Linked DNA regions of Homo sapiens. The protein of the gene in region 1 interacts with the protein of each later gene in a pairwise test. Each region holds a gene or a part of one and is shown on either strand. Other genes may lie near its edges.

Region 1 (8,139 bases):
GACTGGATCCCATGCAGTCTGTTCCCAGAGCCACTCTTCCCGCTCCACCACACTGTGCTTCAGAGCAGAAAACATACCACCTGCCGTCCTGCATCTGCCCTTCATCTGTCCACTAGACTATAAGTTCCCTGAGGACAGGAACATACCATCAGTGTACATACCTTTCATGCTCTACACAGTGCCCAGCATAGCATAGGTGCTTAATGAATACTTGTTGAATGAATAACCCAATCTATATAAAAGTAAGGAATGGTATAGCAACAAAGAAGGATTTCCACAAACAAGAAAATTCACCCTTGGCCAGGTGCGGTGGCTCACGCCTGTAATCACAGCACTTTGGGAGGCTGAGACAGGCGGATCACTTTAGGTCAGGAGTTTGAGACCAGCCTGGCCAATATGGTGAAACTCCATTACTACTAAAAATACAAAAATTAGCCATGCGTGATGGCACACGCCTGTAGTCCCAGCTACTCAGGAGGCTGATGCAAGAGAATCGCTTGAACCTGGGAGGAGGAGGTCGCAGTGTGCCAAGATCGCACCACTGCACTCCAGACTGGACAACAGAGCTAGACTGTCTCAAAAGAAAAAAAAAAAGAAAGAAAAAGAAAAAAGAGAATTGACCCTCATGACCTTTGATCTAGAGTAAATCATCATACATGAGACGAAGAAATTGGATACCATGTTCTAAAAGTAAGCCGACTTGTTTTTCTTTGATTACCTTTCCTGGCTCATGTATCTTAGAGCTGTCTTTTATGACCCCAATTTTAAAATGCTATTGTTATCTTCGTTTAGGTAAGGGTTTCAAACCAATGATCAAATAAAAGGTCTCAACCAAGAAATATAGCACATTACTGTTAAACATTACCAGAAAACATTTTTGCTCATTGCTTTTATTAATCTTATTACAGAATATAAATTTTTCACAGGTGTGTTCTTCATCATAAAAACAGCTGCCATTTATTGAAGACTATTATATGCAGTTCCTACTCTAAGTGTTTTTCTTGGATTATTCCATTTAATCTTCACAATAACCCTCTGAGTCAGGTCTAGTTCATGCCCCATTTTCAGAGGAGGAAAAAAGGGACAAAGTGGTCAAGTAACCTGTCCAAGGGTGACATACCTAGAAAGTAGCAGTTTGGACAATACAAGCCTGTCTCTCAAAAGCCTCTTGATATAAAGACATTGATTTCTAATTTAAAATTATCTTTGAATTAAATCAAAGAGAATACATGTTGATGTTTCTGAGATAAAGGTGACAAAAAAATATAGTTTACACATTGCTAACCGCAGATCCTAATCTTGACTAAGTTACACAGGACCCACTCTTTATAAACACATCAATCTAAATTTAAAAATCAAGGCTGGGCGCGGTGGCTCACGCCTGTAATCCCAGCACTTCAGGAGGCCGAGGCGGGTGGATCACTTGAGGCCAGGAGTTTGAGACCAGAGTGACTGACATGGTGAAACCTCGTCTCTACTAAAAATATAAAAATTACTTGAGTGTAGTGGTGGATGCCTGTAATCCTGGCGACTCAGGAGGCTGAGGCAGAATTGCTCAAACCCAGGAGGCAGAGGTTGCAGTGAGCTGAGATCGCACCACTGCACTCCAGCCTGGGCGACAGAGCAAGGCTCTGTCTCAAAAAAATTAAAATTAAAACGTTAAAAAAAAAAAAAAGAACATTAAGGCCAGCATGGTGGCTCATGCCTGTAATCCTAGCACTCTGGGAGGCCAAGGCAGGAGGAGGCAGGAGGACTGCTTGAGCCCAGGAATTTGACACCAGCACGGGCAACATAGCAAGACCCTGTCTCTACAAAAATTAATTAATTAATTAATTAATAATAACAATTAGCTGGGCGTGGTGGTACAGCCCTGTGGTGTCAGCCTCATCAGGAGGCTGGGAAGGAAGGATGGCTTGGGCTGGGTAGGTCAAGGCTGCAGTGAGCTAGGATCAAGGCACTACACTTCAGCCTGGGTGACGGGGTGAGACCCTGTCTCTAAAAAAATAAATAAATAAAAATGTGAAAATCAAGAGAACAGTAAAGAAACGGGCACTGGAGAATTCCTGGAGCCTTTCTCTTAACTTTCCCACATCCATCAGACATCACCTCCAATAAACTGTTTCCTTCCTCACCTAGGCTGGAAAAAATATGGGCTCCCCTGTACCATCAAGACTTAAAACCAACAGAAACACCTATTTTGTAACACTCGGGAACTTTCTATGCCAGCATATCGAGGTTCAATAACAGCTGTTCCCTTCGGGAAGTGACAGTGGGAACCAGACAACACTCGTGTCACAGGAGGGGCGGGGAGAGCCCACGCTGACGCGACAGCCCTTTGCACTCTCCAAGTCCCTCTCCGACCCGACGTGTCACCTTAGCCCCCTGCGTCACCCCAACGCCTCCAGCCAGCTGCGCAAAGCTGTAAAAGTTCCAGGGAGAGAACAGCCTCTGGAGACAAAAAAAAAAAGGAAACCTCCATCTCCAAAGAGAACCGAGGAGAGGGAGGAGGCTGTGGTGAGCCTCCCTGGCCAAAGCGACAAAAGCTGGAAGCCAAAGCGTAGACTACTCGGCAACTTTATCAGAAGAGAAACTGAGGCAGGCACCGCAAGGCCCGAGGAGCCAAGCCGGCTCCAACAGGCGGGGTCGAGCTCCAGGGTGGCGCTGGGGGAGCCGCGCTTTCCCCGCATCCGGCGCCAGCAGCCGGGGTTTCCGAGCCGGGAGCTCCCTCCTCGCAGCGCCCCCGAGGATGCCCCCGCCCCCGCCTCCGCTCAGAGCCGCCGGTGCTCGCCCCCCGCCCCAAGAGCTCGCCGGGGGGTGTGCCCGCGCCGCCGCCCCCGGGAACGCTCCCCGGCTCGCGTGAGGACCCCCGCGCTGCGGCCTCCCGCCCGGGCCTCTCAGCTGCCCGGCCCCGCCCGCCCCGGCCCGGCCAGGCTGCCGCGGCCCCACAGTGCGACGTGTCACAGGCCGCGCCGGCCCCGCCTCCCAAGCCACGGGCACTGGCGCCCGCGGGGCCTCCCGCCGGTTCCCGCAGGGATGCCAGGCAGGCCCGCACTCGCCCGCGGCCGCTACCTTGTTAGTGGGCACCGAGCGGAGGCGCTTGAAGATGGTCAAGATGTCCTGCTTGCTGGGGTCCCCCATCGTCAGCTGTGAGCCGCGGCGCAGCTGGCCCAGCCAACCGGTAAGAGTCGACGAAAAGCGGCTACCGCCTCAGCAGGAGCGACGAGGCCGCGGGGGCGGGGCTGCGCGTAACGGTCAGGCTCCGCCCCAATCCCCGCCCACGACCGGGCCCGTCCACCGCCGGGGCGCAGGCGCCGCTCGCTTTCCCTCCCCGCCCTCGCTTCAGCCGCGCCGCTGGCCCGACCCCAGGCGCTGCACGCGCGTGCGCAGGAGGCTCGCGCGCCATTTGCGGCGCGGCTCCACGCCCTTAGCGCTGGGCGAAGCCGGGCCCGGGTGTGGCTGCCTGCCACGCGCGCTGCCATAGGATCCACCAACGTTTCGCCTGGTCGATCGCCATTTCGCCTAACGGGCTGCTTCCATGGAAAGGTCAGAGGCAGGGGAAGGGGCGCACGCGCCCTCCTTCGGCACGAGACGGACGGAGGGCCCGTGCCTTGACGCCGGACCTTAGCTGGTGGCCTTCCCTTTTTTTTTTTTTTTTTTTGAGACGGAGCCTCGCTCTGTCCCCCAGGCTGGAGTGTAATGGCGCGATTGCGGCTCCTTGCAACCTCCCTGGTTCAAGCGATTCTCCTGCCTCAGCCTCCCGAGTAGGTGGGATTACAGGCGTACATCACCACGCCCGGCTAATTTTTGTATTTTTAGTAGAGACCAGGGTTTCACCATGTTGCCCAGGCTGGTCTCGAACTCCTGACTTCAGGTGATCCACCCACTTCGGCCTTCCAAATTGCTGGGATTACAGACGTGAGCCGCCGCGCCCGACTCTTTTTAATTCTTGCCCTCAGCTCACGCCAGGCCCTGGGTGGAAAGCTTTCTTTGCCCGGAAACTGGCTTTCTGAAACCAAGGGCTTTTGTGTCACGTTCATGGAGAGATGGCAGTGCGGGTTGAGGCAGAAGTGCTCAGTCAGAACTGATGAGTCCAGATGAGAAGCTTGACTTTTAACCCCGGCCCTCGGGGCTGCACCCTACCCTCTGGGAAACAATTCCAGCCAGAAGAGTTTACACTCAGCAGAAGGTGCCTCTGTCACCACAATGGGTGTGGAGCCACTGGAAAGAGGTTGGGTGATAGTGAGGAAGGACAGCAGGTTTTGGCATCAAAGGCACTACCTTGGCCTCAATCCCAGTTCAGCCAGCTGCTTCCTAGCTCTGTGGCCTTGGTCAAGACACTTACCTTCTCTAAAGCATGGTTTATTTGCAGTCTCAGGGGCTCATGCCTGTGATCCCAGCACTTTGGGAGGCTGAGGCGGGAGGATCACTTGAGCTCAGGAGTTCAAGACCAGACTGGATAATATGGTGAAACCCCGTCTCTATAAAAAAATGCAAAAATTAGCCGGGCATGCTGGCATGGGCCTGTAGTCCTAGCTACTTGGGAGGCTGAGGTGGGAGGATCGCTTTAGTCCAGGAGGTCGAGGCTGCAGTGAGCCAAGATCGCACCACTGCACTCCAGCATGGGCGACAGACCAAGACCCTGTCTCAAAAAGTAAAATAAAATAAACCATGGTTTATTCATCTGTACAAAGAAATTAAAGAATCAGTGCTGAGTAGCACAGGTGAGCAGCTTCCTAGGGATATCCTGAAGAGCCTTTGGTGGAGGCTTTCTACTGTTAGAAGTCAGGAAATGTACACTCCACCTATCTGCTTGGAGACCCTCGGTGGCAGTTGGGAGCTTGCAGACAATGTAACTTATAAACCCAAAGCTGCAACTTTTCCAAGAAAGGGAAATTGATTATCTTCCAGAAAAGTACATTACTTTTGCAGGTAGCTCTGATGGTTTAAAAGTTCTTCCTGTATTGAGTCGAAGTATAACACCTGTGCTTTGTGTCCACCGGGTACTAGTTTGGCCTTATGCAGAATACCGGGCATGTTTATGAGCAGTTTTATCCTTCCTGATGGGAATGGGAATGATGGTCCCATTTACTACTTGGAGCTGAAATCTTACTAAGTTATATTATCAGAGTAGTGCAGTCTAGCCCATTCTCCACCATAGAGATTGAGGAGAGGGAAACAAAAGCAGTAAATTATAGACAGTATCTACACGAATAGGGGAGGAAGGGGTAGGAGGTACCATTTATACACTATGGTTGCTTAAGTGTTCTTCATAGAACTTAGCATCTAATACTATAACATATAATATTCTATCTATATGTTATCTGGCTCTAATTGAATACAAAAATATATATTTCTGGCCGGGGGCGGTGCCTCACACCTGTAATCCCAGCACTTTGGGAAGCTGAGGTGGGTGGATCATGAGGTCAGGAGTTCGAGACCAGCCTGACCAACATGGTGAAACCCCATCTCTACTAAAAATACAAAAATTAGCCAGGCATGGTGGTGGGCACCTGTAATCCCAACTACTCAGAGGCTGAGGCAGGAGAATCGCTTGAATCTGGGAAGCAGAGGTTGCAGTGAGCCGAGATCACACCACTGCACTCCAGCCTAGGCGACAGAGCGGGACTCTGTCTCAAAAAAAAAAAAAAAAAATATATATATATATATATATATATATATATATATATATTTCTTGAAATCAAATGTTTTTTCTCCTTTTTCTTTTGAGGAGTCTCGCCGGAGTGCAGTGGTGTGATCCTGACGCACTGCAACCTCTGCCTCCCAGGTTCAGCCGAGTCTCCTGCCTCAGCCTCCTGAGTAGCTGGGATTATAGGCGCCCGCAACCATGCCTGGCTAATTTTTTTTTTTTTTTTTTTTTTTGAGATGGAGTTTCACTCTTGTCATCCAGGTGGAGTGCCATGGCGTGATCTCGGCTCACTGCAACCTCTGCCTCCCAAGGTTCAAGCGACTCTCCTGCCTCATCCTCCCGAGTAGCTGGGATTACAGGCGCATGCCACCACACGTGGCTAATTTTTATATTTTTAGTAGAGACGGAGTTTCACCATGTTGTCCAGGCTGGTCTCGAACTCCTGACCTCAGGTGGTCTGCCCACCTCAGCCTCCCAAAGAGCTGGGATTACAGGCGTGAGCCACAGCACCCGGCCAATACACTATGGTTGTCTTATCTGTCAGTTGCTTAAGTGTTTTTCATAGAACTTATTGGCATCTAATATTATGATATATAATATTCTATCTATCTGTATCTGCCTCTCCTCAATTGAATATAAATCTCTTGAAATCAGATCTATTTTTCTACTTTTTTTTTTTTTTTTTTGGAGACAGAGTCTCGCTTTGTCACCCAGGCTGGAGTGCAGTGGCGCAACCTCAGCTCACTGCAACCTCTGCCTCGTGGATTCAAGCAATTATCCTGCCTCAGCCTCCCGAGTAGCTGTTTGTAGGCAGCTGCCGCCACGCCTGGCTAATTTTTGTATTTTTAGTAGAGATGGGGTTTTACCATGCTGGCCAGGCTGGTGTCAAACTCCTTCAAGTGATCCGCCCGCCTTGGCCTCCCAGTGTGCTGGGATTACAGGTGTGAGCCACTGTGCTCAGCCTGTTTTTTCTACTACTTTATCCCCAGCACCTAGAATAATGCCTGGCACATAGTATGCATTCAATAAAGATTTGTGGAATGGGCTTAGAATGTAGAAAGCTACAAAGGCTCTCCCTCCCAATATCATAATGAGAAAAGCTGGATAATCTACCAAATTGTAACTTCTGTTGAGCCCATCAGAAAGCTGAGGTTGCAAGGCAACCAAGTAACCTCAGCGCCAAAGAGAGACAACAGAAGCCTCTCCAAAGACAGAACACAAGAACCCCTTCACCTTTGGCAGAGCGCAGGAGAAAGAGGTTACTGCCAAACTAGTTGGCAACAGGAAATCGGCTATAATTTTAATGAAGTCTTAAAGGCCAAGTGTAGGTTGGCATGTGAGTTTGGACTAGCTGGGGGCCTCAGATACAAAGGGAGTTCACATTCATTCATAAGCCCTTTTTAATAAACCTCCATCAGAAACCGTACTTCACAAGGAAGATGGGGACTGGCAAAGAGCCCGGAGAGAGACCTCTCTGTGGGGTGGGCATCCAGCTGCTCAGGAACAGGCACAGACCCCACCTGCTTCCTCTGGACTCTTCTCTTCTAAAAAAGCAGGCTGGGCACAGTGGCTCATGGCTGTAATCCCAGCACTTTGGGAGGCCAAGGCGGGCAGATCATCTGAGGTCAGGAATTTGAGACCAGCCTGGCCAACATGGTGAAACTCTGTCTCTACTAAAAATACAAAATTAGCTCGGCGTGGTGGCGCACACCCGTAGTCCCAGCTACTTGGGGACTGAGGCACGAGAATTGCTTGAACCTGGGAGGGGAAGGCTGCAGTGAGCCAGGATCAAGCCAGTGCACTCCAGCCTGAGCGACAGAGGGAGACTCGTCACAAAAAAAAAAAAAAAAAAAAGAAAGAAAAGAGAAAGAAAAAAAGCAAAAGCAGTAAATTCTCTCTGTCTCAGGGAATGGGCAAAGATCTGTTGCTGCCAGGGGAGGGGTAGAAATAAAACCCAGTAATCCAAATTCAAATGCAAAAAAGGAGGGGAAAGAGAAGCAGAATCCCTCTACAATCCAGGGGTTTGCCATGAGGATGGTGGGAATGTTGAGAAGGCCCCACCCTTTGAGCATCCTGGGCTACACATTTTTTTTTTTTCTCGAGGCGGAGTCTGGCTCTGTCACCCAGTGCAGTGGTATGATCTTGACTCACTGCAACCTCTGCTTCCCAGGTTCAAGCAATGCTCCTGCCTCAGCCTCCCAAGTAGCTGGGATTAACAGGCACCCGCCACCACACCCAGCTGATTTTCCTATTTTTAGTAGAGATGGGGTTTCACCATGTTGCCCAGGCTGGTCTCGAACTCCTGACCTCAAGTGATCCGCCTGCCTCGGCCTCCCACTGTGCTGGGATTACAGGGGTGAGCCACCACCCAGCCCAGTATTGTCCGTCTTGTAGAGTATTTGCATTCTAATTCTCTTTGCTGTTCGTCTTTCATGAAGAGATCCTGGCATAGCTATGGCCAAATGAAGCAGCATTGTGTTTATTTAGTTCAT
Region 2 (7,537 bases), on another chromosome or scaffold:
CACTGGGCGTCACTATGGCCGCCCACGCTAATGCCTGTTGCTGACTTTTTGAAAACCCGGTGGTGTCAGTGTCTGTGTTCTCCCGGGTGGAGGCTGCGCCCCTGTGGTCGTCCTGCTGGTGCCATGGGGGTCCCAGTGCCTCAGGGTCCCGGTGCCTTCGGCCTCCGGGGTCGAGGGCGCTTTACTTGGCTGAGGGCGCTGGCAGGGCCCACCCGCCGTGGCGTCTGCTTCCCCTTGGGTGCCCTCTGGCCCCCCGGATGCCCCTCGGTGAGCGCAGCAGGCAGCCAGGGCCCCCCAGGCCGAGTCTCCCTCCCCGTGGCGGGGTCTGGCATGGCCGCCCAGTGTCTGGTCCCGGGAGGGGACAGAGCGAGCTTCCGCCTCCAGCTCGGGGCCATGATGGGTTGCCCAGGGGAAGCTGCCGAGTTCCAGCTCCTCAAAAGCACGAGTGCCCTTAAAGCCCAGCCCCGAAGGCAGCAGGACCCCCGAGAGAACAGGACGACCCAGCAGACCCCGAGAGAACCGGACGGCCCCGCAGAAGGAGGCCAGGGCTGGCGTCCCGCCCCGGTGCCGGCGCGGACAGAGAAAGGAGCCCGGCCTCCCTCCATTCCCTGCAGCCCCTTCCAGGTCCCTCCCCGCCCCCAGCTCTCGGAACCGCTCCCCAGTCCCTTTCCCATCAGAGGCTCTGCCCCCAAAACCTCTCCTTCCAGCCCAGTGTGGAGGGAGGCGCTTGAGCTCAGGAGAAGGAAGGGACGCAGGCGACCCCATCGTTCCGAGGCCACCGGGTCCAACGCGAGCAGGAGACCCCGCTGTCCTCCCTCCCGGCGCCGCCCTCCTGCCCCTCGCGCCCCTGATGGAGACAGCACCAGCAGACGGCGGGTTGCTTGTATCACCTGCTGTTTATTGATTGCCGCGGGCTGCGCTCTCATGGGCGACCCATGTCCCCAAGAGCGGCACTACATAGAGGGGTTGGAGGAAGACGGTCTGAGAGAAGAGGCCGCGAGAGCCCAGGTGCACAGAAGCCCCGGCCCCACGGGCCTCACGCGCCCCAGGAGGTGTGGGCAGGGCCCGCCGCGGAGGGAGGCTGCAGGTGTGTCAGGAGGCACCTGGCCGGAGGTCACCCCCTCCTTCTGGACCCTCAGCAGAGTTGAGGCGCCTGCACCCCAGGGGAGCCAGGCTGCTATCTAAAGGAGTGTGAGGTGCGGTCACTTCCGCCACTGGCCGGTGTCGGGGTCTGGGACACCCTGAGACCCTAAGCTCTCCTGGCTGCTCTCTCAAACCCTCATTCCATGTGAGAAGGTGGAAAGGAAAAAAGGGAAGCAAAGGAAGACAGACACCCCGCCCTCAGGGTGCTCCCCCCATGATGGGCCAGGGCTGCAGGGGAGCCAGCCGAGGCAATGCCTGCTTAGGACGAGGGAGCCGAGGTGGGCTTCTCCTCCCGCGACACGGGGATGGCTCGCTCGGCGTGGGTGGCATCCAGGCCAGTCTGGATCTTGGGGCCACAGAAGGTCAGCATGCCATCGGCAGACAGGGAGCAAGAGAGGGCCGACTGGTCCACGTTGGACGGCAGGCGGTAGCGGCGGTGGAACTCACGGGAAATGTAGCCGTGGTCGTCCTGGAGAGGGTGGGGGCGCACAGTCAGGGGGGCCACTGTGCAGGCGGCTGCCTCGCCCCATGCCAGAGAAGCTGCCCCAGCCCCACTGACTGCAGAAGGGGGCCAGCCTGCGGGGGCTCTCACAGGGGCCGGGTGCAGCCAGCACATCCCATGGCCAGGCCCCCTGGGATTTATGGATTCATGCCCCTGCTTCTCTGGACCTCAGCCTGGCCTCGTGGCCACTTGCCGGGCTATTCCCCGCGGGGGGTTGTCTCTTCCCGCTCCATGGCTTCACTCCAAAATCGCAGGATCATTCCAGACCAGGCCCCGCACCTCAGCCAGTCTTCCCCTTCCAGACCCCGCAGGACTGCTCTAGCCCAGGTCTCTGCAGCCCTACCTAATGTGGCCAGACGACCCACATGCTTCCACGTCCCCTGGACGCCCTAAACCGCAGACTCAGCTCCCTGGGCTGACCTCCTCCTCCACTGGGTGCAAAGACCAAGAGCTGGGAGCTCAGGAAGCATGTTCCAGGCTGGCTGGGGCTACGTGGGGGCTTTACCGGGCCCAGGCGAGGGAGGGGCAGCACATGAGGAGGTCAGCGTTCACCCCCCAGCACCACCTTCTCCAGCCATTGAAAGAGGACCCTGGCCAAAAGAAACCAAGACTTTGGCTAAGAGTTCCACCTTCCAGCCCCACTCTGCTCTCCAGCCCCCGCGGGGCACTGTCCATCTGTGACAGTCCATGAGCTCTTCCCGGCTCCGCCAGGAGATGCAGGTCACCAGGGCTCCAGTGCCCCGGCTCCCTCAACACCACGGAGATCCGAGGCCTCCAGCCGAGCAAGAGCGGGGCATCAGGGTGACTGTGGGGAGAAGCTCCCGTCCACCTGCCCGGTACTAGCTGTGGGACCCAGCAGGCTGAGGACCCCCTTGTTCCCCAGCCGTGCCCTGGAATAATGAGGACACTGGTTCCAAAGTGCTGCTGTGAGGCGAAGGTGTCAATGCCTGTAAAGCATTCCAAGCGGATGCAGCTATGCCGTCGGGGACTGGCTTCCTCAGGTAGGGTTCATGTGAAGATGTACACTGGCTAGGAGGCGGCCACCCGGGGCACTCCCACTTCCTGGGGTTCTTTCTAAGACCACCCTGGCATCCAGGTGACAGGGATGGAGCTGGCGACGGCTGGGTGCAGCCCGGGAAGGGACCCTAACCTGGATCCCTGAGCCACATTAGCTCGGGAATGGTGACCTCTGTCACCGGGAGGGGCTGGCTGTGCTCAGGTGGGCACGGCCCCTCCCTTGGGGAAAAGCCAGGCCTGATTCGGGGTCCCCTGGAGAGCGTCCCTCTCCCAGGGTTGAAGGCATGGTGCAGGTGTGCAGGCCCGGTCGTGCCCGCCGTGACCCCCTTGTCCTCGCGCCCAACTCGCCCCCCTCTCCCACCTCTCAGTGCCTGGGCTCACCTGGCGCTCGTTGTGCTTTCCGTGGATCTCCACAAAGTCGTCCTGCACCTTCACGGTGAGGTCCTCCGGGGAGAAGTGCTTCACATCGAGGAAGATGACGAACTTGTCCCGGTCGGATCGAACCTGAAATCCAAACGTGCCATGTGGAGCTGCCCAGAGGGTGCCGTCCCTGCTGGGGTTGGCAGAGACAGGGCGGGTCCCGGTTATCAGAACAGAGATGCTTCGGTCACCTGCCGGCCTCTTCTCCCACACACCAAGTGGGGCAGAGCTTTCGGGGGCCTGTGACTGTCTCCTGGACAGACAGGCATGACCCTCGACCTGTCTCCAAACCCTCAGGGCCAGCTGAGGGGCTGAATGCTACTGGTGGGCCGGCTGGTTGTTTGGCTATGGTCAGGTGGCTGGTTATAGATAAGTTGGCTGGTTATGGGCTGGCTGGCTACTGGTTATGGTAGGAGGGGTCGTTACGGGTTGGTTGGTCCGTTAGGGTCAATCGTCTGGCTGGTGATGCTTGGCTGGCTGGCTGGACTCAGCCTGTGGAATGAGGTCACTGCCCTTGGTGTCATGCTGTCTATAGAAGCGGCCGGAGCCTGCTGACAGCCTGCGCAGCTGCCTCTCCAAAACGCACTTCCACATGCTCCTTCTCACTCCCCTGGCTCAGCCTTGGCTCCCTGAGGCATTTTGCACCCTGGCATTGATGCCTACTGCAGCAGCCCTGGGGAGGACCCTGTTTATGAGGTGCTGGGTGGGACTCAGGCCCTCCAGAACAGCAGAACCTGCACCGCTCACCCGTGGCTCAGAGAGGAGGCCTGTGGTTGGGTGGGGGGGGGGGGCGTCCATTGCCTGTCCTTTTAGCCTTGGCAGGGCACCTAAGTAAACTTGCCAAGAGCTTTGCTAGCCGTGGGCAGGCCGAGCTCATTGGAGGAGGTGCTAGGAACGCCCTGCTCTCTGGCTTTCAGGACTATGACCCCCACCTGCTCCCAGGTCTCCGGGACTCAGGAGACCAGAGGAACCCGGGAGCTGGCATTCGCCACCACGCATGCCTGGATGGGCTGCTCTTGGGGTTTCCAGTATGTGGCTGGTGCCTTACAAAGCACACATGGGTCATGAGCTGATGGAGGAAAGCAAAGGTGGATTCAGGCTGCTCCCTTGTCCACCCTCTCCCCAGTGCCAGGGGAAGCTCTACCACGTGGCTGCAGTGGGGACACAGGCTCTCGCCCAGCCTCTGCAAGGGGATGAAGTGGGACGAGGCCACCTGCCTGACGGAGCAAGACCAGAGTCCATCGCTCTCCACCCACCGAGGCCACCACCCTCTGAGCAGCGAGGAGAGGCCAGCACCACGGGCCACGTCTTACCTCAGAGATGCCGGAGTCCAGCACGGTGCGGAAGAGGGACTGGCGGTAGTAGGGGCTGATGGTGGACGACAGGAAGGGCAGCAGGTCATACTCAAAAAGGCCCTCGCCGAAAAACTGGTCGAACAGCCGGCTGGGGTAGAAGGGCCCCAGGGTGCGCTTGAACCAGGGGTGCTGGATGGTCACATCCATGTTCAGCTTTGGTACCACGGGGACCTGGAGGCTGGCAGGAGTCAGCGGGGCCTCTGGGCAGCGCAGTGTGGAGCCAAGGCCGAGCCCTCCCTATATATGCCACCAGCAGAATGGAGGCATTAAGGGATTTCTCTGGAAAGGCGTGAGCTCATGAAGAAGGCTGCTCAGTCAGCAGAAACGTGGCTGGGACAAGTGCCCGCCCCCAGCCCCAGGAGGGGCTGCACGGACTGTCCCCGAGGCCTGGACTCAGCTGAGGCCCGCCTGGGCACCCTGGGGCTCCCGGGAGGGCAGACAACCCAAGGAGGCGCCTGTGCCCCATACTCGCCTGGGGCGACAATGGAGCTTCTCATCTGCCAGTCACTGGGCAGGGGCTACGTGCCAGGGACCATGCTAGTTCTCTGCACACCTTGTCCTGCCGGGGTGGTCCTCATGGTCGCCAGAGGAGGGAGAGCCCACACCCCCGTTAGACACAGAGGTTAGACACATCGTCGTCAGAGTCTCACCGGGCCTGGGCAAGAGTGCACTGGTTTCCAAAGCGGAGTGCATCTGTGAACCTCCGTTACACTCACCACTTACAAAAGTACGCATGCTTGTTAAAACTCGTGGAGAAGAAGCTGCAAGGTGCCATAATTCCAGCACCTGGGGGAGCCCTATGGCGTTTCATGCTTGTCCTCCAGGGGTCACATGCCTCCAACAGGAAGACGGGCTGGGCTGTGGGCAGATGAGAGCACCACGTGGTGAGCTTCCCTCTGCGGCCCACCCTGGACGCCCAGCCCCATGGCCATCATCCCCTCGATGTAACGCCTCGAGCGTTACATCTCGTAATGATGTAATGCCTTGATGTAACATCCCCACGTAACGCCTCGAGCCTCCGTGGCATGACCTGCCGTGGCTGTTGAGTTGGGCTGCTCCTGTCAGGGTGGCGACATGTCCCCACGTCCCTGTCACCCATGCGGACCCACCACCCACATGATCCTGTTATCCACAAGTCCTGGTGATTATTTTGCTCCTCGACCCATGGCCCCTGTCCAGTTCTCACTAAGTGTCCAGGCACTCCCGGTTTTGTTTGTTTGTTTTTGAGATGGAGTCTTGCTGTGTCACCCAGAGTGGCGCCCAGATCATATAGTGGCGCGATCTCAGCTCACTGCAACCTCTGCCTCCCAGGTTCAAACAATTCTCCCACCTCAGCCTCCTGAGTAGCTGAGACTGCAGGTGCCTGCCACCACACCTGGCTAATTATTATTATTATTATTATTATTATTATTTTTGTATTTTTAGTAGAGACAGGGTTTCACCGTGTTGGCCAGGCTGGTCTCAAACTCTTGACCTCAGGTGACCCACCTGCCTTGGCCTCTCAAAGTGTAGGATTACAGGCGTGAGCCACTGCACCTGGCTCACTCCTAGTTTTAAGTCTTTTGATATTTTGGTATTTTGATATTTTGGTAAACTGGCCCTGGGGAGCATGGTCCTCCCCCACATCCCCCCTGCCAGCCTGGGAAGAGGCCATGCCCCCTCTCCCAGGCTAGCTTTTCTAGTGTACGGTCCAGGCTGTGGGAAGTTGCCTGGTTCTCTTTGGCCTCCTAGTTCCTACTCAGCCTCTAACAGATTCGTGCGTGTGGAGTGAACACACACCCAGGACACTCCCGGGCTTTGCAAATTCATCTCCAGCCCATGGGCTCAGAAGGCCATGAAATGTCAGATGCCCCAGTGTATGCGGATCAGACCTGACACATCCCAGATGGGATCAGGGATGAAAGGGGGGGCTCCGAGGCGTGCTCCACGGGGCACCTCCATCATGAGCAGCACCCATGAGCAGCACCCTTCCTCCTACATTTACAGCACTGTCCGGGGACACAGGATCCCAAAAAATCTTGAAATGATAGCTTTTGCCCTGCAAGGTTACAATTCCAGAGGAGCGATTCCCTGGGGTGCCAAATTAAGGTGCAGATAGGAAACGCTGGGAGAGTGATGGGTGCTTCCCCCGAAAGCCTACACCAGACCTCTCTGCCTGTGGGTCCTCAGAGCCACCCTGTGAAGCAGGTCCCAGCATCATTCCCGCTTCATAGACCAGGAAATGGGAGCTTAGAAGGTTAAGCCGCACACCCAGGTCACTTGGCTTGGAAGAAGGGAAGGGGGTTTAAAGCCACCTTTCCAGTCTGGGGGTCAACATCCAAGCAGTGGCAGGGTCTGGGTGAGGCAGCGGGCGGCCCCACTGTGCTGGCTGCCTATTCCCGGGGCACAGGGAGGGGGAAGAAGAGTCCTTTGGGATGGAAACCAGCATGGAGCTTGGCCCTGGGGAGGGTCGAGCCAGGCCAGGAGCACGGTCAGTGCTGGGCAGAGCCATGCTGGAGCTTGAAGCAAAAGGAGAAGGCCGTCGTCCTCATCCTGGCTTTATGTAAAATGTTGACAGTTTGTCCACCACAAATTTTTTGCATTCATTTTGATTTACTTATTTATTTTATTTATTTATTTTTGAGATGGAGTCTCGCTCTGTCGCCCAGGCTGGAGTGCAGTGGCACAATCTCAGCTCACTGCAACTTCTGCCTCCCGGGTTCAAACGATTCTCCTGCCTCAGCCTCCCAAGTAGCTGAGATTACAGGCACACACCACTACACCCAGCTAATTTTTATATTTTTAGTAGAGATGAGGTTTCGCCGTGTTGGCCAGGCTGGTCTCGAACTCCTGATCTCTGGTGATCCACTCGCTTCGGCCTCCCAGAGTGATGGGATTACAGGCGTGAGCCACTGCGCCCGACCCATTTTGATTTGTTTAAACATTGCATCAAAACATGATTTAAACATCAGAACATTGATGGCAGTGTTTTTAGTGCCCCTGACACTTGGCAGGGAGGGAGGAGCTGTGCTGTCCTTCACAGCTGGCCCTGCACATGGTCAGTCAAACAGTGGAGACTGCAGGCTGAGGAGGCAGCTGAGGCACCAACCTGGGGCTGGGC
Region 3 (7,750 bases), on another chromosome or scaffold:
CTTGAACTCCTAACCTCAAGCAATCCTCCCACCTCGGCCTTCCAAAGTGCTGGGATAATAGGCATGGAGCCGCCACACCCAGCCAATGTGCCGAAGAAAGAAAGAAAAACATGCTCATCCTTTGAGTCAGGTTCAAATTTTTTCTCCTCTTTAACCCCCAGTCACTCCAGTTATAAGTGATTTTTAACTCTTCTCACACTTTAATGCATCTGGCAAGAAGATCCACGTGGTGTTAGGAACAATACAGGACCTTAAGGATGGGGGAATCAGCAGGTGTCAGCGTGCCCTGTATGCTCAGGGCAGCTGTTTCCACTGGACATTCTCCCTTTGCCTCTCTGGGCAGCAACTCCTAGGCCAGCCGACCTGCTGTGTCGAGTAACCAGGATTTCTCAATCTTGGCATGGTTGCCATTTTGGACCAGATCGTTCTTTGTTGTGGGGGCTGCCCTGTACGGCAAAGAATGCCGAGCAGCACTTCCAGTCTCCACCCACAGGACGCCAGTAGCACCCTCTAAGTTGTGAGAACTCAAAATGTCCCCAGAGGATGCCAGATGTCCCCTGGGGTGGGGACACAATCACCCCAGGTTGAGATCCATGGAGCCAGGTCTGTTTGCCACCAAGGGGTAAAGCTCCATTCCCACCTTAGGAGGGCTAGGAGGCAGCATCGTGGGGCCACAGAAGGCCTGGGTTTGCAGTCAGAGGACAGGATGCACATTCCTTCAAGATACAGACCCAGATTGTTGGGCATCTAGTTCTTGGGTTTTCTGTTGTTGCTGTTCCGTTTTGTCTGTCTTCCCTCCTTTGTTTACTAGCAGCCTGGAATTTGCCACTTTTTCTAAACGAAGATTTATGGAACACTTACCACACGGCTGACGCTGCGCGAGGCTAAGGTTCTAATACACCGCAGCTCACTTAACTCTCGCAATACCATAAACGCACACTGTTTCATCTTGACCCTTTCTTGGGAAGGTGACAGAGAGGTAGGAGGGCAAACATCTTGTGTGCCCCGTCCCAAGGGTATTACTGGTGGAATAATATCCGCCCCCCACCCCAGTTTCTAATTTGCTGTAGGCTGTGACGCTGTGGGGCAAGACTAGGAGTCCTGTTGAAATTAGGAATAAGTGTGCTGTGAGGGAAGGGCTGCCTTATTTTAGAGCACAGATTTTCTGAATATCTATTTTGACAGGTTCGATCCTCTCCCCTTCCTGCCTTCCTTCTGTCGATTTTCAATGTCTTGATGGTGTCCCACCTGAGTGGCCTTTAGAGATGTGAGTTGTGAGGCACTGGGGAGGCAGGCACACGTCCTCCAGCCCAAGACTGCCTAATTTAACAGGGATTTCTGCATTCTGGAACAAGCCTCCATTTTCCCCAAGCAGGATTACTCCAGAGGGCAAAACACAGCCCAATAGTATCACATTTCCTTTCTGCTTTAGCAAAAATAACCACTGTCTCATTCATGGGAAAAGGCCGCCAAACAAATTTGTTACTGGAACCATTTGTAACAACTTCTAGTTTGCACTGCCTTGGAGCAAGCACACTTTGTAGAGGAGGGATTTGCAGTTACTTGGGCAACAAGGTAACCACTGATCATTACAGGAAGCTTCAGAAACCGTGGGACCAGTGTAGAAGAATGGACTATCTGTCCAAACTAAGAATAAAAAGAATGACACTTGTATTTTGTATGTCTTTTTCACTTTGCCTTTCTAGTAATTCATTTTTCTTGATATTTACACCTTGTGGCCCTGTGATAGACTGGAAATCTCAAAAACACACGTTCAGCACCAAGATTTTCAGCAGCACCGCCTCAGAATGAGACCCCTAGAAAAAACTGCGTGTTTTCCACTTGCCCAACACGAGGAGTTTTTGGAACACGACCTGCTTGAGGTGGAGATTTTCTAGATGGGCAAAGAGAAGGAAACACTTAACCTAGGAAGAGTATTTAGGAAGAAGAAAGAACACAGCCTTTCTGCACAGGAAACCGCCGAGCAGAGGGGCATCTGGCCTCTGCAGTGGCCTCCAAATAGAGTCCAATGGCTGGGGCCAGCGTGGCTGCTTAAAGGGGACTCAAGGGATATAATAAAATGCAGATTCTCAGGTCCTAGTGCAGACAGGCTCACCCAATAAGTCTGGACTGCATATGGGAATCTCTATTTCTAGGCCCTTCTGCAAGGTATTCCTGCTCTTTCCAGGAACCATCGGCAGCTGGTTTGGGGAAAGAAGCAACGACTCCAAGTGTGACCTGTGAGCTGGCAGCAGCCACCCTCAGCTCTGCTCTCGGTCACTGAATCCGATTCTGCATTTTAACAGGACCCCAGGTGTTGCACCCACACAAAGCTGAAGCAGATTGGTCTGGGGGCAAAAAATTAGAGCTATGGAGATTCTCTCAAATGAAATAGATGATATCATTGACTGTTAGAGCTTCTAGAAGGAATCTGAGGTCACTTGTTCAAATTCCCTGATTTACAGATGAGGAAACAGAGGCTCAGACAGCTCAAATGACTTCTCTCCAATACCCAACATTCGACAAGTAGCAGCTCTGGGACTAGTACCCAAAGCACCTAGCTCTCCAATCACTGCGCAAGCCACACAATTCTGTCTGCTTGTCAGTGGCTTTTCTGATTCAAAAAAAGCTTAGGAATTTCCCCAGGAGGCAGCACGATGTAGTGGGAAGGGCTCTGGATGTCTCTCCAAGGCTTCTGGAATTCATGCCCACCTCCACCAAGAAGCCACTTTCCTGCCAGCTACAGGTGCTCACCTGAAAAGCAAGCCAGACCATATTAACCCTGGCATTGCTGGTACCTGGAAGACTTTCTGATTCAATGCTTTCCACCTCCTCCTACCCCTCACCACCCCCGTGGCATGAAATCCTGGGGGCTGCTTTAGAAATTGTTTTCTTTGGCTGCTGGTGGGGGTGCTGCTGGTGGGGGTTTGCACAGCTGGCACACTGCACCAGTCTGGTGGGGGTTTGCACAGCTGGCACACTGCACCAGTCTCCTGCCTGCTGCCAACAAGGCCATTTCCCAAGCACTGGCTTTGGAGAAGTTGGGGCTCTGAAGTGGGAACACAAGGCTGCCTTTTGCAGGCCAGGTGTAAATTCTCCCCCTGCCACTTTCAGCCTAGCGTGAAACAGATGGAGTGTGCATTCCCACTTCCCTTTATGGTACCCTGGAATGATGGAGCTGCCCAGGGCATCGCCACGTTACTCTCTAGACAGTCTCTTTGTCTTCCTGCAATGGCAGCGCCGAGGTTGTATATTTCTAGGTGCAGGTATATGATTGCCATATAATAAAAATCTGAAAACATCCCACCCGGGGCCTGGGCTGGACAGCAAGCATTAGCACAAAACAAACACACTCATTTCATTTCCTTTATGTGGTTAATGTCAGCACTCCCAGAGTATTCTCTCTTCTTTTGAGAATTCTAAGAGCAAAAAAGTGACCACTTTTTTTTGTATTGAGTAGCAATAGTCAAATATCAAATTAGTACATCTAGGCCAAGAGAGGATGAAGGGGAGCCAGGCCAGGAAAGTCACCCAGAAGAGGTGACACTCTCTTCCTCAGGTTCCACCAGAAACATGTTTATACCCAGGGAAATTACAGAAGGGGTGCCAGGCTGCCCACCTGCCTCACAGGTATGCCCTATTGTCCGGGTAGTATCTGTTACCTTAACATACAATGAACCCCAGTGTCTCACCAAGGCTGGGCAAACAGGGTGACCCAGAGGAGGGATCCATGACACACAGCAAGGGACTCAAGGACAGGCAGAGGCTCACAGTCAGTCATAGGAGCCTCAGGTCACCTGGAGAGGGACCTCACTCACCAGCAAGGAGGACCACCACCCCGTTCCTGCTGTACCCAGTGTGGGGTTGGGGCAAGAGTCAGTGCCCACTAACCCCCCACCTCTTCTCCAGCACAGGTAGACCCTGAATTCAGGGGCCAATGCTTGACCTGCTCTAGTCTATGAATGAGATGTTACATAAATCCCAAGGCATGCTGTCAGATACTAGGGAGAAGGAGAGAAACACCACCTTTAAATTCCTCCCTCTCCACCCCTGGGAGCAATGCAGCTACGTACCACCACCACAAAAGAATAGCCACTTGGCCGCGCGGTGGCTCACGCCTGTAATCCTAGCACTTTGGGAGGCCGAGGTGGGCAGATCACTAGGTCAAGAGATCAAGACCATCCTGGACAACATGGTGAAACCCCGTCTCTACTAAAAGCACAAAAATTAGCTGGTTGTCGTGGCACACACCTGTAGTCGCAGCTACTCAGGAGGCTGAGGCAGAAGAATCGCTTGAACCTGGGAGGTGGAGGTTGCAGTGAGCCAAGATCAGGCCACTGTACTCCAGCCTGGCAACAGAGCGAGACTGTTTAAAAAAAAAAAAAAAAAAAAAAAAAGGCCACTGATCACAACAGCTATCCTTATCATTTTGGGATCATTCCAGGAGGAAAAAGGAAAAATGGGCAGGCAAGGGGAGGTGAAGCCAACTTACCTACAACAAGGAGATCACACAAGGAGATCAGGGATGAGTATGGCGGGAAGTATGGGGGGAAGCACCTGTTTCATATTAAATATATCCTGATTGATAAGGGGGTTGCCTTATAATGTCTTTAAAACATGAAATACTGAAGCTTTCTACATCCATCCCAACATAAGTGTTTATTACTCATAGGTATTTAAATATCATTGATCTAATCTTGTACACATTGGATTTCTCTCATATTATACATTAATTTCAGCAATTCTAGAATTAGTGCAACATGACATGGGACATTTTAAATTCTTTTTTTCGAGACAGAGTCTCGTTCTGTTGCCCAGGCTGGAGTGCAGTGACACGATCTCGGCTCACTGCAACCTTTGCCTCCCAGGTTCAAGCAATTCTCCTGCCTCAGCCTCCTGAGTAGCTGGGACTACAGACATAAGCCACCATGCCTGGCTAATTTTCATATTTTTAGTAGAGATGGGGTTTCACCATGTTGACCAGGCTGGGTCAGGTCAAACTCCTGACCTCAGGTGACCCGCCCGCCTCAGCCTCCCAAAGTGCTGGGATTACAGGCATGAGCCACCGCGCCCCGCCTGACATTTTAAATTTTCAAGCAGTTACTCTCCAGCAGGAAAAACAATACAGAAGTACAGAAGGGAAGCAGAAACACTCCTCTCTTCCTTCTCCCACCCTAAGCCCCAGGGCACTCTCTTGCCGCAGGCTTCATATCAATACAGCACTAAAATCGTCATTTGTGTATTGCCTGTGATAACAATTACACTTGAATCCCAAATTGAAATTATTAACAATTAAAAGGTGAGGTAGAATCAAAGAAAAAAAATCCATAGAATGAAAAACTTAGAATGAACTTGTTGTGGATTAAATCATGTTCCCCAAAAGATATGCTGAAGACGTAACTCCGGTACCTGTGAACTTAACCTTATTCAGAAAGTGGGTCTATGCAGATGTGATGAAGTAAAGATGAGGTCAGGTTAGAGGAGGGCAGGCCCTAATCTAATGACTGGTCTCCTTATAAGAAGAGAGGAATTTGGCCACAGAAACTTACATGGAGGGGAGAGATTGGAGTCATGCGGCCAAGGGTCAAGAAATGCCAGCAGCCATCAGACACTAAGAAGAGGGAAGGAAGGATCCTCCCCCAGAGCCTCCGGAGGGACAGTGTTTCTGCTGTCGCCTTGCTTTTTGAACTCTGGCCTGCAGAATTATGAGAACAAGTTTCTATTGTTTTGAGACCAGGACATTAATGCAGAAATTTGATTCTCCACAGCTGAGGAAAGGGAAGATGAGGGAGGTTACACACTTGCTCCTGGTCACAGGTGTGACACTACAGTGCTCAGGACCTGTAATCACATCAGGATGCTTCCTGTCAAACCACATCATCTCCAGAAGCATGAAGATGGTTCTTCTTAAAAAGTTACTGTAACTAAAACACTGCACCTAAGGAGGAACGGCAGTGACGTGCAAAGACTGAGCTGGGCTGACCCAGATTGACAGCTCCACCCTGCTTTGCCTTCACTAGTGTGGCCCTGGACAAACTACTCTGCCTCTCCAAGCCTCGGTTACCCTGTCTGAAAATTAAGTCACATTGTTGTGCACATTTTCCAGGACGTTGCAAGGATACAATGAGGTGAGCCACGCACAGGGCTTCACGTGCCCTTTGAGTGTCCAACACTCCATCAGCAAGAAATCAAGGTCAGCTCTTGATCTTATAAACTATTTCTCAGACTCCTGTCCCTCCTTGTTGTTTCAAGCTGATTTCTTGGCTCACCTTTCCCAGTCCTCTGTAATACAGTCTTTGATGAATTCTTTCTCTAAAGCCCAGAAGCTGCCACTTCTCACTCGAAGGAGCTGGTGGCAAACTGGCTTTGACTTTCTTGTTCTTTCAACCTCAGTAATTGTTTTTTCTCATTGTCTTTAATAGTTTACCATTTCAAGTGGCTCCATCAGATTTCTTCTTGCTGGGATTGCCTTCTTGTTTTCAGCCTCACCTACAGTCAGCTTCATTTGGGGAGCCTGGATGGCTTCTTCTGAAGAACACAAACTCTTATTGCATATGCTGGATCCATATTTTCAATACAAGTCTTCCAAATAATTGTGTACTAAGAGGCTGATAATCAAGTGAATGCACCATGATTAAAATAGGATTCGCCAAAATAATTAGGTGGCCCTTTACATTCAAGTGTTCAGGTATGAGAATAGTTTTGCTGTCTGCTTTACCTATGTTAGTGGAGATGACAGAAAATCTTTCAGAAAAAGAATCCCAAAGGCTTTTTTTGAAGCTACTACAAGGTATATGGCTGCACACCTTCTCCTGTCTTCAGCTGGAGTTATTGTGTTAACATGAAAGTCTCTTTTTTCATAATAGAAATTGCTGTAATTATAATTACTTTAGAAGAGTGTTATTATTAATAAGACCAAATTGCACGGTTCAAGCAGGTGCTGGTTGAAAGAACTGTTCAAAAGTTCTACAGTTCGAAAGAACCCACATAATGGGATCAGCCGCAAACCTGGCAGTCATCTCCATGCCAACGTGGCCCTGCCTGCCAGCACACACGCCTTGCAGCTCTCAGGCGGGCTTCCGGGCACATGCCTGTGACTCCTCACAGAGTCACTGGGCTTTAAACAATGGACCTCTAGTTCCTGATTAAAGCCTTCGGGGAACAAGCACACTTCCAACAGTTGACTTTCCCATAAAAGAAGGGGAGCTGGAGGGCTCTGGTTCCTGTTGAACCTCTCCTCTCAAGGCCTCTCCCGTGCACACCTGGATCCAGCCCTTCATTCTGTTGCTCATTCAGCAGTGCTGAAGGAAAGAGGAGATGGGGGAACAGCACGGAGTTCCGGAGGGTCCAGTTGCAGTCATACAATAAGTCCCTAACACCTTGGGGTGTACGTTCAGGGTTCTCTGGCTAGAAAGGGTAGTTTGAGGCCAAAACCAAAGAGATCAGGAGGCATGAAGGGAAGGAAGTCGTTATCTGTCTGGTGGTTCAGAACTTGGCTTCTGAAGTTCAGCTCCCTGGCTTCCATTTTTGGCCCTCCCTCTTTCTTGCCCTGTTGCCCTGGAAAGTCATTCAGTCTCTCCGAGCTTCAGTTTTCCCACCCCCAAATGCGTATAAGACCCCCGAGGGGTGGTGGGTGGTGGGTGGGGATTCCTGGGAAAGCACACCTAAAGCACAGAGCGCAGTGCTTGTCACGTACTGAGCTTTCAGACATTGTCTATGACTATTACTTAATTCTTGAAAAATTCTTGGT

The links.
Region 2: the proteins of ARFGAP3 (region 1) and alpha-crystallin A2 chain interact in binary tests that used the Homo sapiens proteins (3 or more experiments, as listed by UniProt).
Region 3: the proteins of ARFGAP3 (region 1) and BACE2 interact in binary tests that used the Homo sapiens proteins (3 or more experiments, as listed by UniProt).

The regions. Positions count from the first base shown.
Region 1 is NC_000022.11:42,854,045-42,862,183, forward strand, and holds the start of ARFGAP3 (ADP-ribosylation factor GTPase-activating protein 3), read right to left. Parts: upstream 3,230-8,139; 5' UTR 3,139-3,229; coding exon 3,070-3,138; intron 1-3,069.
Region 2 is NC_000021.9:6,557,830-6,565,366, reverse strand, and holds the end of alpha-crystallin A2 chain, read right to left. Parts: intron 5,296-7,537; 5' UTR 4,585-5,295; coding exon 4,396-4,584; intron 3,448-4,395; exon of another isoform or gene 3,352-3,447; coding exon of another isoform or gene 3,274-3,351; intron 3,167-3,273; coding exon 3,044-3,166; intron 1,613-3,043; coding exon 1,403-1,612; 3' UTR 878-1,402; downstream 1-877. UniProt on the Homo sapiens protein: Contributes to the transparency and refractive index of the lens. In its oxidized form (absence of intramolecular disulfide bond), acts as a chaperone, preventing aggregation of various proteins under a wide range of stress conditions.
Region 3 is NC_000021.9:41,170,787-41,178,536, reverse strand, and holds part of BACE2 (beta-secretase 2 isoform A preproprotein), read right to left. Parts: intron 3,307-7,750; exon of another isoform or gene 1-3,306. UniProt on the Homo sapiens protein: Responsible for the proteolytic processing of the amyloid precursor protein (APP).